4 linked regions of the Homo sapiens genome follow. The protein of the gene in region 4 interacts with the protein of the main gene of each other region in a biochemical or structural test. Each region holds a gene or a part of one and is shown on either strand. Other genes may lie near its edges.

Region 1 (3,574 bases), on a different chromosome or scaffold from region 4:
AGAGCAGCTTGAAGCTCTAGGGAGATGTATTTTTAAACTAAAAGTGAAGTTGACCCTCATCTGCCCAGATTTCTCCTCTAGAGGAGGAGTTATACATAAATATAGCCAGCTTGCTGCCCCTCATACTTGGTTAGGATTCCTATAAGTCTGATTGATAATGTCATGTCTGCCACATGTAGCAAGGAGCTGTGGAGAGTAAGATGAACAACATTTCTGCTCCTTAAAGGTGGCTTTCCCCCATGGTCTATATTAGAGGTTGGCAAACTTTTTCTATTAAGGAACAATTAGTAAATATTTTAGACTTTTTGCGCCAAGAGCCAAAACCATAGCTATTTTGTGGATAAGTATGCATCAATCAAGAAAATAAATGTCTGCCAATATTTTACCGATGACATTAAAAATATAACAATAATAATTGAGTGCAGTTATTTCATAGCATAGATCTACTAAAGAGAAGAATGGAATTTTAGGGCACATAACATCTAACTTAAAGTGAGCATTCCTATCATTAAAATTAATGATAGTAGGCCTAGCGCATTCCAGAGCTACTGAATTTGAATCTAAATTTTAACAAGGTCCCCCAGTGATTTGTACCTTAAAGTTCAAGGCCATTCTGGTCTAGAGTTTCTTAATACATTTTTGGCTTATATTTTTATCACTTTAGAGAAGATAGTGAAAGCTGTGGATCCTAGAAAAAGTTCACAAATCATTTGAAGTTCATTCAAGACTCCTACAAGGTCTGTGGCTTTGAAATTAAGACCCCAGGGATTCTGTGGACATGCCCGCCCAGAGCGAAAGTGTTCTGAAATTAGATTGTGGTGATGGCTAAACGCACTGTGAATAGACTAAAAAAAAAAAAACATTGAATTGTACACTTCAAATGGGTGAATTGTACAGTATGTACATTATATCTCACAAAAGCTGCTTTTCAAAAAAACAGAATCTCTTGAGTTTGTGTTCCATGGATTTTTTTTAACGTCCTATGGGGTTCCAATGGACACCTCAAGTGGAGAATTGCAAAGAGTCAGGTTTTGGAGTCAGGAAGCTCTGCATTCAAATCCTAGCTTTGGCAATTACTATGTTACAGAAACTAAGTTACTTAACCTCTCTGAACCTTGGTTTCTTTTCATACAGGGTGGAGATAATAATAGTACTAACTTCACAGGGTTTTGAGGAGGATCAAAAGGAACTTCTAATGCAAAATTCCTGGAAGATTCCTTGTCACATGCACTTTTTCATGTGAAATGGTGGGATTCCTCAGATATCAAATGCAAAGCCAAAAATAATTACATGCTTCGCATTATTCAAGTCGTAATTAATCACACATGTCATATTATCCATGTTGTACTATATTTTCCACTTAAATGTATATTTCCTGCTCCATTATTATACTTGCCTTAATGCTTTTTCCTTATGAGTCATGGTAATAATGATAGTGAACACTCAGCACTTATATACAAGTTTCAGGCCCTGTTATGAATTCTTGATTTACATATATGAACAGTACAATCTTTACATTGTGAAAGGAAAATAAATCTCTGGACCCCAAAATCACTAAGCCGAAGGGAAAAGTCAAGCTGGGAACTGCATTGGGCAAACCTGCCTCCCATTCTATTCCTAAATAAGATACCTACAAAGATAAAAAAGCTACATACCTCCCTCACAATTTTTCTCACAGGGAAATTTCTTGTGGACAAAGGACAGGGAGAACTCAAAGTCATCCCTCTGTCACAGAAGACAAATGTGTATCTGATTGCTTCCTTTGCCCTGTTTTTTCACTAAGCCAGACTAAGGCATAAGTGACTATTCCTGTAAATTGTGCTTATCAAAATATCAAAAGAATGCAACCATTTGTCTCCTATCTACCTGTGACCTGGAAGCCCCCTCCCTGCTTAGAGTTGTCCCGCCTTTCTTGACTGAACCAATGTTCATCTTACCTATACTGATTGATGTCTCACGGCTCCCTAAAATGTATAAAACCAAGCTGTGTCCCAATCACCTTGGGCACATGTCGTCAGGACCTCCTGAGGCTGTATCACTGGCACATCCATAATCTTGGCAAAATAAACTTTGTAAATTGATTGAGACCTGTCTCAGATACCTTTTGGTTTACAATATCAATTATTTGATTTAGATACTTTCACTATTCCCATATTACAGGTAGGAAAACCAAGGCAGAGGGAGGTTAAGTAACTTGTCCAGTGTTACACAGCTTGTAAGTGGTGAAGCTGGATTCTGACTAAGGGGTCTGACTCTATTGACTGTGCTCTTGACCACTATAATATACTGTAGAATTAAATATACATACATATAACATATATGTACACACACAACAATATTATATATAACATAATATACAACATAACACACAGGTGTGTGTGTGTGTTTAATTTTGTATTGGTCAAATTTATACCAGTGCCCAGCACTCCTGCTTTGGAGGGTACACACTTGTACATACCAAAAGAGTTTTATTATGACAGTGTAGAGAGGATGTAGGATATGACATCAGAGCAGATTGCCCTGACTAAAGAAAGAAATAAAAGCTGAAACAGTAGTCAGAGTGTGGAGAGGGTAGAGAGGAAAATGAGATTGGGGAGGTCCTGATGCTACCTGGCTCCTGTGAGCAGGAATGGGGGAGCTAAGCTAGGAGAGGAGGAGTTGGTGGTGGTTGAGGGACTAGGAGGACTGAGGGGGCCAGTAGATCTAGGGGCCTTGAGTAATGATGAGGGGCCCAAAGAATGCAGGGTCCCCTTAAGAAAAGATCATGGAGAGGAAACCAATCAGTGAGATGCTGGAGATGGGGTGAGGTCAGTGACAGGTTCGCAGATACCAGTATAGATTGAGTGAGCCTGAGAATCAGGAAGAAAGGTAAAAATTGGTGCAGCAGGAAAAAATACCCCAGGAAGATGCCTTTGGAAGTTACTTAAGCTGACCAAAGTGACTCTGGTACAAAGCAGGAACTCTGGTTTAAATCTTGGCTCTAAAATTTCTGAGAAACATGACTGAACCTCTGTATGCCTTGGTTACATAGAAAACACTTGAATAGTTCTTGAGTCACGGTAAATCCTCAGAAAGTGTGAGCCTTTGGCATTATCATTAGGAGCAGTACTGAACCTACATTTCATGTTTGCTGACCCAGGTTCAACATTTTTCCCAGTATAAGCAGTGAAAGATTATCACTAGATGATATTCTCACTGTTCAGGAACCTACTCTTTAGGTCTGAGTTGAGCCAATATTTAGTTATATCCTATTGTGCTTAAGTATAAAGCCATACATATGACTATTATTCACAAGAACAATAAGAGTCAGATGGGAATTCACTTGAAAGAAAATCAATAGCTGTTTGGTTGTTGTGTATAACTGATTTAGAAATAACCTTCCTGTGTTTGGAGCTCAAACTCTGTAACAGTCAACAAAAATAATTAGATGGCAGCTGTGAGTAGTTCAAAGCAAATTAAATTCTTCCTTCTTGAACATGGCTAATGCAAACAGGACATCCCAATCTATATTTTTTCCATATTAATGTCTGGACTTCCTTGTATTTAAGATCAATAGTATTCTCCCTGTGCTGGT
Region 2 (3,574 bases), on a different chromosome or scaffold from region 4:
CAGGAGGTACAAGATTAGACGAGCTGCCACTATCGTTCTTCAGTCTTACTTGCGAGGCTTCTTGGCCAGAAATAGGTATCGCAAGGTGAGGCATTATTTTCAACTTTGTTTATTCATTCTATTAGCATTAACCAAATTTCACATCTATACAGAGTACCACAGGGGCTACAATGAAGGTAGGAACTGTATGGGGACAACCAGCTATTGAAATGCATATTTATTTATTTTAAAAAATTCTTTTTTAGAAATAGGATCTCGCTCTGTCACCCTGGCTGGGGTGCAGTGGTGCAGTCATAGTACACTGCAGCCTCAAACTCCTGGCCTCAAGCAGTCTTCCCACTGTGGCTTCCCAAAGTGCTGAGATTATAGGTATGAGCCATTGTGCACATGCCCAGCCTGAAATGCATTTTAAAATACTAAATAATCACATACAGTTATTAACAAAACAATGGGAAAAAAACTTTTACCTCCTTCTTTCTCTTTGTTTATATAATTTGAAAAAAAAAGTATGTTAGTTTACTGTGGCTGCTATAATAAATTATCACAAACTTGTTACCTTAAAACAGCCAAAATTAATTCTCTCAGAGTTCTGGAGACCAGAAGTCCAAAATCATTATCAATGGGACAAAATCAAGTTGTCAGCAGGCTGCTCTCCTTCCAGAAGCTCCAGGGGAGAATCCATTCCTTGCCTCTTGCAGCTTCTGGTGGCTGCCAGCATTCCTGTGCTTGTAGCCACATCAGTCCAGTCTCAGCCTCTGTTTTCACAGCATTTTCTCTTCTGTGTATCTGACTTGACTTCTCCTATCTGCCTCTTATAAGAATAATTATGATAGCATTTGGTTCCACCCATGTGATCCAGGATAATCCTCCCATCTGAAGACCCTTAACCTAATCACATCTGCAAAGGCCCTTTTTCTGAATAAATAGCATTTGCAGGTTCCAGGGATTAGCACCTAATTTCCTTGGGGCCCCCTATTCAGATGACTACAGAGAACTTTGAATAGATAGAATATATGACAAACAGGTTAAAGGTTATTCCAAGAATGAGACAACCTTGGAAGAATTTACCATGGTGAAGAGGAGGCAAATTATAACATTAATGTGGTTAAAATTGTATTGACAGATACAATGCTCCAAAAGTTTTTGACAAATAATCTTACATCTAGCAATAATTAATGGGGTCACCAGAGTAGTCTTAATTATCACCTGTGACCATTGATGAACGATTTTTATCTCTTTCATTTTGGCAAGGTTTGGAGTCTATCCTACAGGCTATATTTCAAATCAGTGAGAAATACAAGCCTGGATATTAGAGCTCTATGGACATCACCATTAGAAGGAGCATTAATGGGGTGATTTGGGTCTCTAAGCACAGACAGTATATGGGTGTGACCTAGGCCCTATTTATTTATTTATTTATTTATTTATTTATTTTTATTTGAAGTGATTTTAGACAACAAAAAATTCGAAACTGGTGAGGCTTGAATGAGTGTATTTAATAGCTGTGTTTTGAAGATAGCTACTCCAGATCTTTCTGCTCACCCCTCCTTTATGTAGTCTCATGCTCTTTCTATATAAGCGTGAGATTTTAGGGAGGAAAGAGGTTTGAAGTTGCTTTTCAGATACACCAAACTAGTTACCTTCCTGTGTTCCTCACTACTTTCCTTAGGAACATCTGAGCTGGGTTTTGAGGTCACTGGTTTAGCAGTGGCAGCCTCCGGCCAGCTCAGGCTCCCACTGTGACTGGACAGGGTGGAAGGTGGTAGCGTAGAGGCTTGCTCACATGTAAGCCAACAGCCATCACATTAGTGCTCCTTCTAGCTGTATTTCAGGTCCAAGGTTCCCCTTCATGAGATTTGGAGTGGGGGGGTCTTAAAGAGAGTACAGGTGTTGATTAATTTCTCTCACTCATGATGAAAGTGAGATTGAAAATGGAAGCTCTGATTAAATGCTGTTTCCATTTGACTAAAATTACAAAAATGGACCCATGTCCAAAGTTACATGGGAGAAGCAAATGGAACAGGAAAATTGGCATTAATAGTTTTATTTATCCAGTCACTGTGCCTGGCTACCTCTTCTTAAAATTCAAGAATTTCTTCTCCATCTTTCCTAGAAAATGTTTACACGGTGTCTTTTTGGTGCTCTTTAGCGACAACAAATTCATCTAATAAGGCAAACTTTTGTTTGTTTATAAGTTTAGGGAAATATCATTTTTTTTTAGGAAATGTAACATAAAATCAAAAGTAAGATTAGTTTGTTTCACATCTTTTTACTTTTACCTTTCATTTTAAAGCCCCATCCCTCCTACCTTTGAATCCCAAAAGTGGATCCTTGCTACATTTGAAATAGCAATGGAAAATCCTCACTAGAATGGTATTCCTCAAATGTGGTAAACAAGAGTGTCATCTTTTAGTTTCTAAAAAAAAAAAAAATCAATAAATCAGTACAAACTTTTTAGTACCCCAAGTGTTGGCCTCTACAGACAGTTTGCTGCCCATACCCCGTGTCCTCATGCACGGGCCTAATAATGCATAGTGAGGTGGTATCAGCAGTCAGGGTGGTGGGGATATCTCTTATTTTAGTAGCACATAGTTTACAGGATGCCTGGTTCTGTTAATTTTATAGAGGATCATCTGTTGCCAACAGAAATCATATACTAATAAGAAACCTAATGTATTTTTTCTTTCTTTTTATAGTTGTTTTTCTTTTGGTAATCTGGTGCTTTTTATTTAGACAGCTTCCAACTCTATATTCTGCTTAGAATTATACACATAATATGTGCATATGACACATTTTTATGTATGTTTCTGAAATCACCTTCTAAAGTCTACTTTTCAAATCACTTTTAAAAATAATTTTGTAGCCTCCATATATCTGTGATAAGTATAATCTACATAGTACATTGTCAATTCAACTTTTATGTCTTTTCCTCTAGGTAATGTGTGGATTTTCAGCCCGACATAGATTGATAATCATGAGTGTAGTCCAGGGTCTTGACATTGCTTGCCCTTATCCTTTTCTGCAGATACTCCGTGAGCACAAAGCAGTCATCATTCAGAAGCGAGTCCGGGGCTGGCTGGCCCGCACACACTACAAGAGGAGCATGCATGCCATCATCTACCTTCAGTGCTGCTTCAGGCGGATGATGGCCAAGCGTGAGCTAAAGAAGCTCAAAATCGAGGCTCGCTCAGTGGAGCGCTATAAGAAGCTGCACATCGGCATGGAGAACAAGATCATGCAGCTGCAGCGCAAAGTTGATGAGCAGGTGTGTTTCACAAAGGGGCCCTGAGAGTGGAGTATGCCTGAAGAAATCCACCAGGATTATTTTCAATATTGTTTTTCTTTGACTTTACCCTTCGGTCTTAGTAAAAAGTAAAATTATGACCGTATTTATTTCCATAATGGGCATGGAAGTACTTATGAACTCATAAGGTGGATCACAATTGCAAAAACTAAGGCAGGAAGTTATTATTATTATTATTATTATTATTATTATTATTATTATTATTACTATTATTTGAGACAGGGTCTCACTCTGTCGCCCAGGCTAGAGTTCAGTGGCATGGTCACAGCT
Region 3 (3,574 bases), on a different chromosome or scaffold from region 4:
AGAGATCTGGAATATTTGTGATCTGGACCTTCTTCTGTTAACCTGATAAGTTGAGAATATGATCCCAGTAAAACATTTTATCCCATAGCAGTATATGTATGGATTTCAATTCTTTTTAGGTGGCTGCAAAATTCGGGTTCAGGGGGACTGGATCAGAGAGCGCCGCTTTGAAATCCCTGATGAGGAACACTGTTTGAAGTTCCTCTCAGCTGTCCTTGCTGCTCAGAAAGGTAACTAAAGACTCAGCGATTTTCTTTCTTCTATTTCAACGGGAGTGGAATTCTGACATGCTGATACAGAGGAAAGTGGCCATTGGCAAAATACCTCACCCTTTAAGCCCTGATAGCTGATTTTTTTTTCTTCAGGAGTGAACACAGGGATAGGTTAGGGAAAAAATCTGCCCAGCTTTAAGGACACTAGGCAAGTTTTCAGAATATTCAGTGTCATGGCAAGCACAGCTTACCATAGACTATAATTCTCCTTCTGCCCCTAGATGACCCCAGAGCTGCCCTCATTTCCTTAGTTTCTTCCACTGTATCCAAAAATGGTGCTGGCCCCTGCATATAAGGAATGTTGAAAGAATGGCTTTTGGCTATAGTAAATTCTACTCAGTGAAAGACTTCCCAGTTTCTGACCATGAACCTTATCTCTCTAGCTCAGTCACAGCTTCTTGTTCCAGAGCAAAAGGACTCATCTAGCTGGTACCAGAAATTAGACACTAAGGACAAACCTTCTGTTTTTTCAGGTACTAAAAAGTTCCTGGTTTCCTTGTTGCTATGGTCATTGCAGAGTCAGTAGATTTTGTCAGGCCAAATATGGTGATGTAGATTAAAGCTGATGTCAGACACATTCTCCTGCAGAGTAGTTTTATCAAGTCCAGGCCCACTGACCAGTGTTCACTCCTTATCCTTCCTGTAGCATGGTAGCTGTTCAGGAGCCAGCTTAGCAGGGTGGTAGAAAGTACAAGCTCGAGAGCCAGACAGCCTGGATTTGAATCCCAAGTCAAGAACTTACTAGTTGTACAACCTTCATCAAGTTACTCAACAACTCTGAACTTCCCTTTTCCTTTCTGTAATATGGGAAGATTTTTAATAGTACTTACTTCTTGGAGTTTTTGTGATGATTAAGTGAGATCATGATATAGTCCCTTACTCTCAACCAGGCATTGTGCTCAGTCTTCAATAAATGTTAGCTATTACTAGTCTGTTCCAAGTTCTTATAAACTTCTATTGTTCTAGTTAGTATATCAGTGCTTCAGGGATAGGTATGCTTCTTCGAACTCCAATCCAAGTAATTTCTACCCTTATGATAGTTTTCTGTTTAGTAATACCACTGATCAAATTGTGATCAAATCAAAGCCCTGTTACCCTGGATATGTTGGATGTTAGATTTTTTCCCCGTTTGACTTTGGGGTCTGTGTCTTTCAGGGCTTCTTGGATTTGAAGACAATTTTTCTTCTATGAATTTGGACAAGAAAATAAATTCACAAAATCAGCCTACTGGGATTCATCGGGAACCCCCACCTCCACCCTTTTCAGTGAATAAAATGTAAGTCCCATGTGAAAACATATTTGCCTTGTAGGAGAATTATAGTTTAAACAATTTTACTTTTGAATCTCTCATTTATTTGCTAGGCTTCCACGTGAAAAAGAAGCTTCTAACAAGGAGCAGCCCAAAGTGACCAACACCATGCGGAAGCTCTTTGTACCAAATACCCAATCTGGGCAGCGGGAGGGTCTCATCAAACATATCCTGGCAAAGCGAGAGAAAGAATATGTCAACATTCAGACTTTCAGGTTAGTGTCTCTTTTGCTTCCTGAGTCTAAAAAGTTAGTATATATAACAGACAGTGGCCTGTTGATATTTAAGACATTAGCCTAATTAAGAATCAAAATATGATAAAAAGGAATGGTTGCCTGTTTCAAGCTCCTGTCTCTATGCTGGCCAATAACATGCATATCAGAAATAATGCAGATGCTACAGTTTCCCTTGGATTTTCTTTTTTTGTGTGTGTGGGTCAGGGTCTCTCTTTGTCACCCAGGCTGGAGAGCAGATAGATCATGGCTTACTGTAGCCTCAACCTCTCAGTCGTAAGCAATCCTCCCACGCCAGCCCTGCAAGTAGGTGGAACTACAGGTGCACACCACCACATCCAGCTAATATTTGTGTTTTTTATAGAGACTGGGTTTCACCAGGTTGCCCAGGCTGGTCTCAAATTCCTGAGCTCAGGCAATCCACCCGCCTTGGCCTCACAAAGTGTTAGGATTACAGGCTTGAGCCACCGTGCTTGGCCTTCCCTTGGATTTTCTAACTACTAATAATGCCATGTCTACTAATGTCTCTACTGAGTCCTAGAGAACCAAATCAAGGTCACATGTACTAGAGAATTTTCCCCTAGCACATTCCATAAGCAAGCGTGTTTATATATCTGGCCTGTTAAGTTTTTTTTTTTCAGCCAATATTAGAAAATTAAAGTCCATCATTACCACTAGCTCTTAACTTACTTACTTTGGTAAATAAAGAAAGTTTCACCCAGTCCTCTTGATTGGGAGGTCTATCTTGGGTTCTTTTATCTGTATTATTTTTTATTTCATCTTTTTTCTGGACTTGTGTGTGTATGCTGCATGTGAGGTACCATGTGGCATGTATCGCCAATGCATGAAGCAACACCACATTTCTTTGTTATTCATGAGCAGAATGTACCCTTCTAGTCCAAGATTCTAGTCCCATCTGCTATCCTGTCATACCTCATTTATTCTAATTCAGTCATAACTATATCCCTATGCTAAAACTTGCAGTTCCTCATATCCCCCACTATGCTTATATTTGTGTGTAAACAGTTAAGACAGTCATGAGTTTTCCCTTCTGCTTTCCCCCTTAATACTATGTCTGCCTCATCAGAATTTCCTACACAGATGTCCTTGTAATCCTTCAGGAAGTGAGTTCCTGGAGTCAACTATAGCCCCTTATAGAACATTTATCCATATTTGACTAGCTTACAGCATGAAGATACCTCTTTCCCATCCATAAGCTCTCCTATCAAGTATGAGTTTGGATGGAGCTTAATTGAAAGGAAATGTGGTATAGCAATTACCTTTGCATTTTTTAAAAATAAAGACTTGGTTTCCTTCTGTAGTTTTACTTAATGTAAAATTTAGAGAAAATAAGCCCACTGCCTTTGTGTTCTAGATGCAAAAGATCTTTCTTACATATGTGGCAAAACATTTTGAGGAATTATGTTAGCATATTGTGAACATACCTTTGTATGGAAGCGAAAAGAAAGAACTTCTGTTGGTTTATACTTGATCTTTGTTTTCAAATTATCTTTTCGTATTATGTATTAGATTTTTTGTTGGAACTTGGAATGTGAATGGCCAGTCTCCAGATAGCGGGTTAGAACCTTGGCTGAACTGTGATCCCAATCCTCCTGATATCTACTGCATTGGGTAAAGAACACTTCTGGAATTTCCTTTTGGCTATATGTTTGGTGTTCATTTACATGATGTTTTGCCTTTTTTAAAAAAGACTGTTGGTAAAACCTACTGTAGACTATACACGAGAGTTAACTTGCGGG
Region 4 (2,453 bases):
CGAGCTAATTTTTGTATTTTTAGTAGAGACAGAGTTTCACCATGTTGGCCAGGCTGGTCTCGAACTCCTGACCTCAGGTGATCCACCTGCCTTGGCCTCCCAAAGTGCTGGGATTACAGGCGTGAGCCACCACCACACCCGACCCCCTGTTTGTTTTTTGAGACAGGGTTTCACTCTGTCACCCAGGCTGAACTGCAGTGGCGCGATCTCACCTCACTGCAACCTCTGCCTCCTGGGCTCAAGCAACCCTCTCACCTGAGCCTCCTGAGTAGTTGGGACTACAGGTGTGAGCCACCACACCCTGTTAATTTTTGTACTTTTTGTAGAGATGGGGTCTTGCTATGTTGCTCAGGCTGGTCTGGAACTCCTGGGTTCAAGCCACCTGCCCACCTCAGCCTCCCATAGTGCTGGGATTACAGGTGTGAGCCACAGCACCTGGCACAGTACGTTTGGTGAATGACTCTGTGGAATAATGGAGCACTCATATATTCTGAGCACTGGTGACCCAACCTGCTCTTCCTGACACTTTGTGCCCCTGGGCAAGCTCCTGCTTCTCCCAGGGGGCTGAACTGGATGATATCAGAGCTCATTTCCTCTTCGAGGGCCTTATGTGCAGGTCCTCTCTGACCTTCATCTCTTCCTCCCTAGGACACAGCAGGGCAAGAGCGGTACCGGACCATCACCACCGCATACTACCGGGGCGCTATGGGCTTCATCCTCATGTATGACATCACCAACGAGGAATCCTTCAATGCAGTGCAGGACTGGTGAGTGTACCCCACTTGCTCTTTTTTTTTCTTTTCTTTTCTTTGAGAGAGGGTTTTATTCTGTCACCCAGGCTGGAGTGCAGTGGCACGATCAGGGCTCACTGCAGCCTCGACCTCCTGGGCTCAAGTGATCCTCCTGCCTCAGCCTCCCAAGTAGCTGGGACTACAGGCATATACCACCACACCTGGCTAATTTTTTTGTATTTTTAGTTGAGATGGGGTTTCCTCATGTTGCCCAGGCTGGTCTTGAACTCCTTGGCTCAAGTGATCTGCCCACCTTGGCCTCCCAAAGTGCTGGGATTACAGGCGTGAGCCATCGCTTCTGGCCTTCCACACTCATTCTGGGGCCATTGTCTCTGAGCCAAACTTTCTTCAAAAAATAATAAATAAAACGTAGGGGTCAGAGAAGGATTTCAGATGGAAAAGTAAAACTATAACCATATAGAAACAAATATCTGCAAGTGTAGGGTGGAGAATATAGAGACTATAAGGAGAGTTGGCATGGCCGGGCACGGTGGCTCACACCTATAATCCCAGCACTTTGGGAGGCTGAGGCAGGTGGATCACCTGAGGTCGGGAGTTCGAGACCAGCCTGACCAAGATGGAGAAACCCCATCTCTACTAAGAATGCAAAAATTAGCCAGACGTGGTGGCGCACACCTGTAATCCCAGCTACTTGGGAGCCTGAGGCAGGAGAATCGCTCGAACCCGGGAGGTGGAGGTTGCAGTGAGCCAAGATTGCCATTGCACTCCAGCCTGGGCAACAAGAGCAAAACTCTGTCTCAAAAAAAAAAGGAGAGTTGGCATAGGTTAGAGATTGTAAACATTTCAATTTTCTGCTCAGAAGTAATAACTTTAAAAAAAAATTTCTGGGTTGGGCACAGTGGCTCATGCCTATAATCCCAGCACCTTGGGAGGCCGAGGTGGGTAGATCTTGAGCTCAGGAGTTCGAGTCCATCGTGGCCAACATAGTGAAACCCTGTCTCTACTAAAAGCACAAAAAATTACCAGGCATGGTGGCTCATGCCTATAGTCCCAGCTACTTAGGAGGCTGAGGCAGGAGAATCACTTCAACCTGGGAGGCGGAGATTGCAGTGAGCCTAGATCGCGCCACTGCACTCCAGCCTGGGCGACAGAGCAAGACTCTATCTCAAAAAAAGAAAATTTCTGGGCTGGGTGGCTCATGCCTGTAATTCCAGTACTTTGAGAAGCGAAGGCAGGCAGATACTCCAGCCTGGGCAACAGACCCAGACTCTATCTCAAAAAAAACCCCAAAACACAGAAACAATAATGGGTCAGTCGGGGGCTGGAGTGGGGTGAAAGCGGGGCACATTGGGGGAAAGGATGGTGGGGAGGATGGAGGGGCAAGCTTCTGGGTCTTTCTTCCTCGGACAAGGACACAGGCTCCACATCAGCCCGTCAGGGTGGAGCTGGGATCCTCCAAGCCCTGACCTGCCCCCATTGGTGCCTCCTATAGGTCCACCCAGATCAAGACCTACTCATGGGACAATGCCCAGGTGCTGCTGGTAGGAAACAAGTGTGACATGGAGGATGAGCGGGTGGTGTCATCAGAACGTGGCCGGCAGCTAGCTGACCACCTTGGTGAGTGCCCAGCTGGGCTGGAGACCCACAAGTCTAGAAAAAGGACACTAAGAGAGGGGAGGGCACACACCCAAGGTCTTACAG

The links.
Region 1: the proteins of RAB3A (region 4) and SYTL5 form a complex in vitro, tested with the Homo sapiens proteins (one study listed by BioGRID).
Region 2: the proteins of RAB3A (region 4) and MYO5A form a complex in vitro, tested with the Homo sapiens proteins (one study listed by BioGRID).
Region 3: the proteins of RAB3A (region 4) and OCRL interact in a biophysical measurement, tested with the Homo sapiens proteins (one study listed by IntAct).

Annotation. Positions count from the first base shown.
Region 1 is NC_000023.11:38,012,993-38,016,566, reverse strand, and holds part of SYTL5 (synaptotagmin-like protein 5), read right to left. Parts: intron 1-3,574. UniProt on the Homo sapiens protein: May act as Rab effector protein and play a role in vesicle trafficking. Binds phospholipids.
Region 2 is NC_000015.10:52,371,815-52,375,388, reverse strand, and holds part of MYO5A (unconventional myosin-Va), read left to right. Parts: coding exon 1-85; intron 86-3,025; coding exon 3,026-3,265; intron 3,266-3,574. UniProt on the Homo sapiens protein: Processive actin-based motor that can move in large steps approximating the 36-nm pseudo-repeat of the actin filament. Can hydrolyze ATP in the presence of actin, which is essential for its function as a motor protein. Involved in melanosome transport.
Region 3 is NC_000023.11:129,557,206-129,560,779, forward strand, and holds part of OCRL (inositol polyphosphate 5-phosphatase OCRL), read left to right. Parts: intron 1-119; coding exon 120-230; intron 231-655; coding exon 656-745; intron 746-1,427; coding exon 1,428-1,548; intron 1,549-1,634; coding exon 1,635-1,796; intron 1,797-3,344; coding exon 3,345-3,446; intron 3,447-3,574. UniProt on the Homo sapiens protein: Catalyzes the hydrolysis of the 5-position phosphate of phosphatidylinositol 4,5-bisphosphate (PtdIns(4,5)P2) and phosphatidylinositol-3,4,5-bisphosphate (PtdIns(3,4,5)P3), with the greatest catalytic activity towards PtdIns(4,5)P2.
Region 4 is NC_000019.10:18,198,641-18,201,093, reverse strand, and holds part of RAB3A (ras-related protein Rab-3A), read left to right. Parts: intron 1-648; coding exon 649-767; intron 768-2,244; coding exon 2,245-2,369; intron 2,370-2,453. UniProt on the Homo sapiens protein: The small GTPases Rab are key regulators of intracellular membrane trafficking, from the formation of transport vesicles to their fusion with membranes.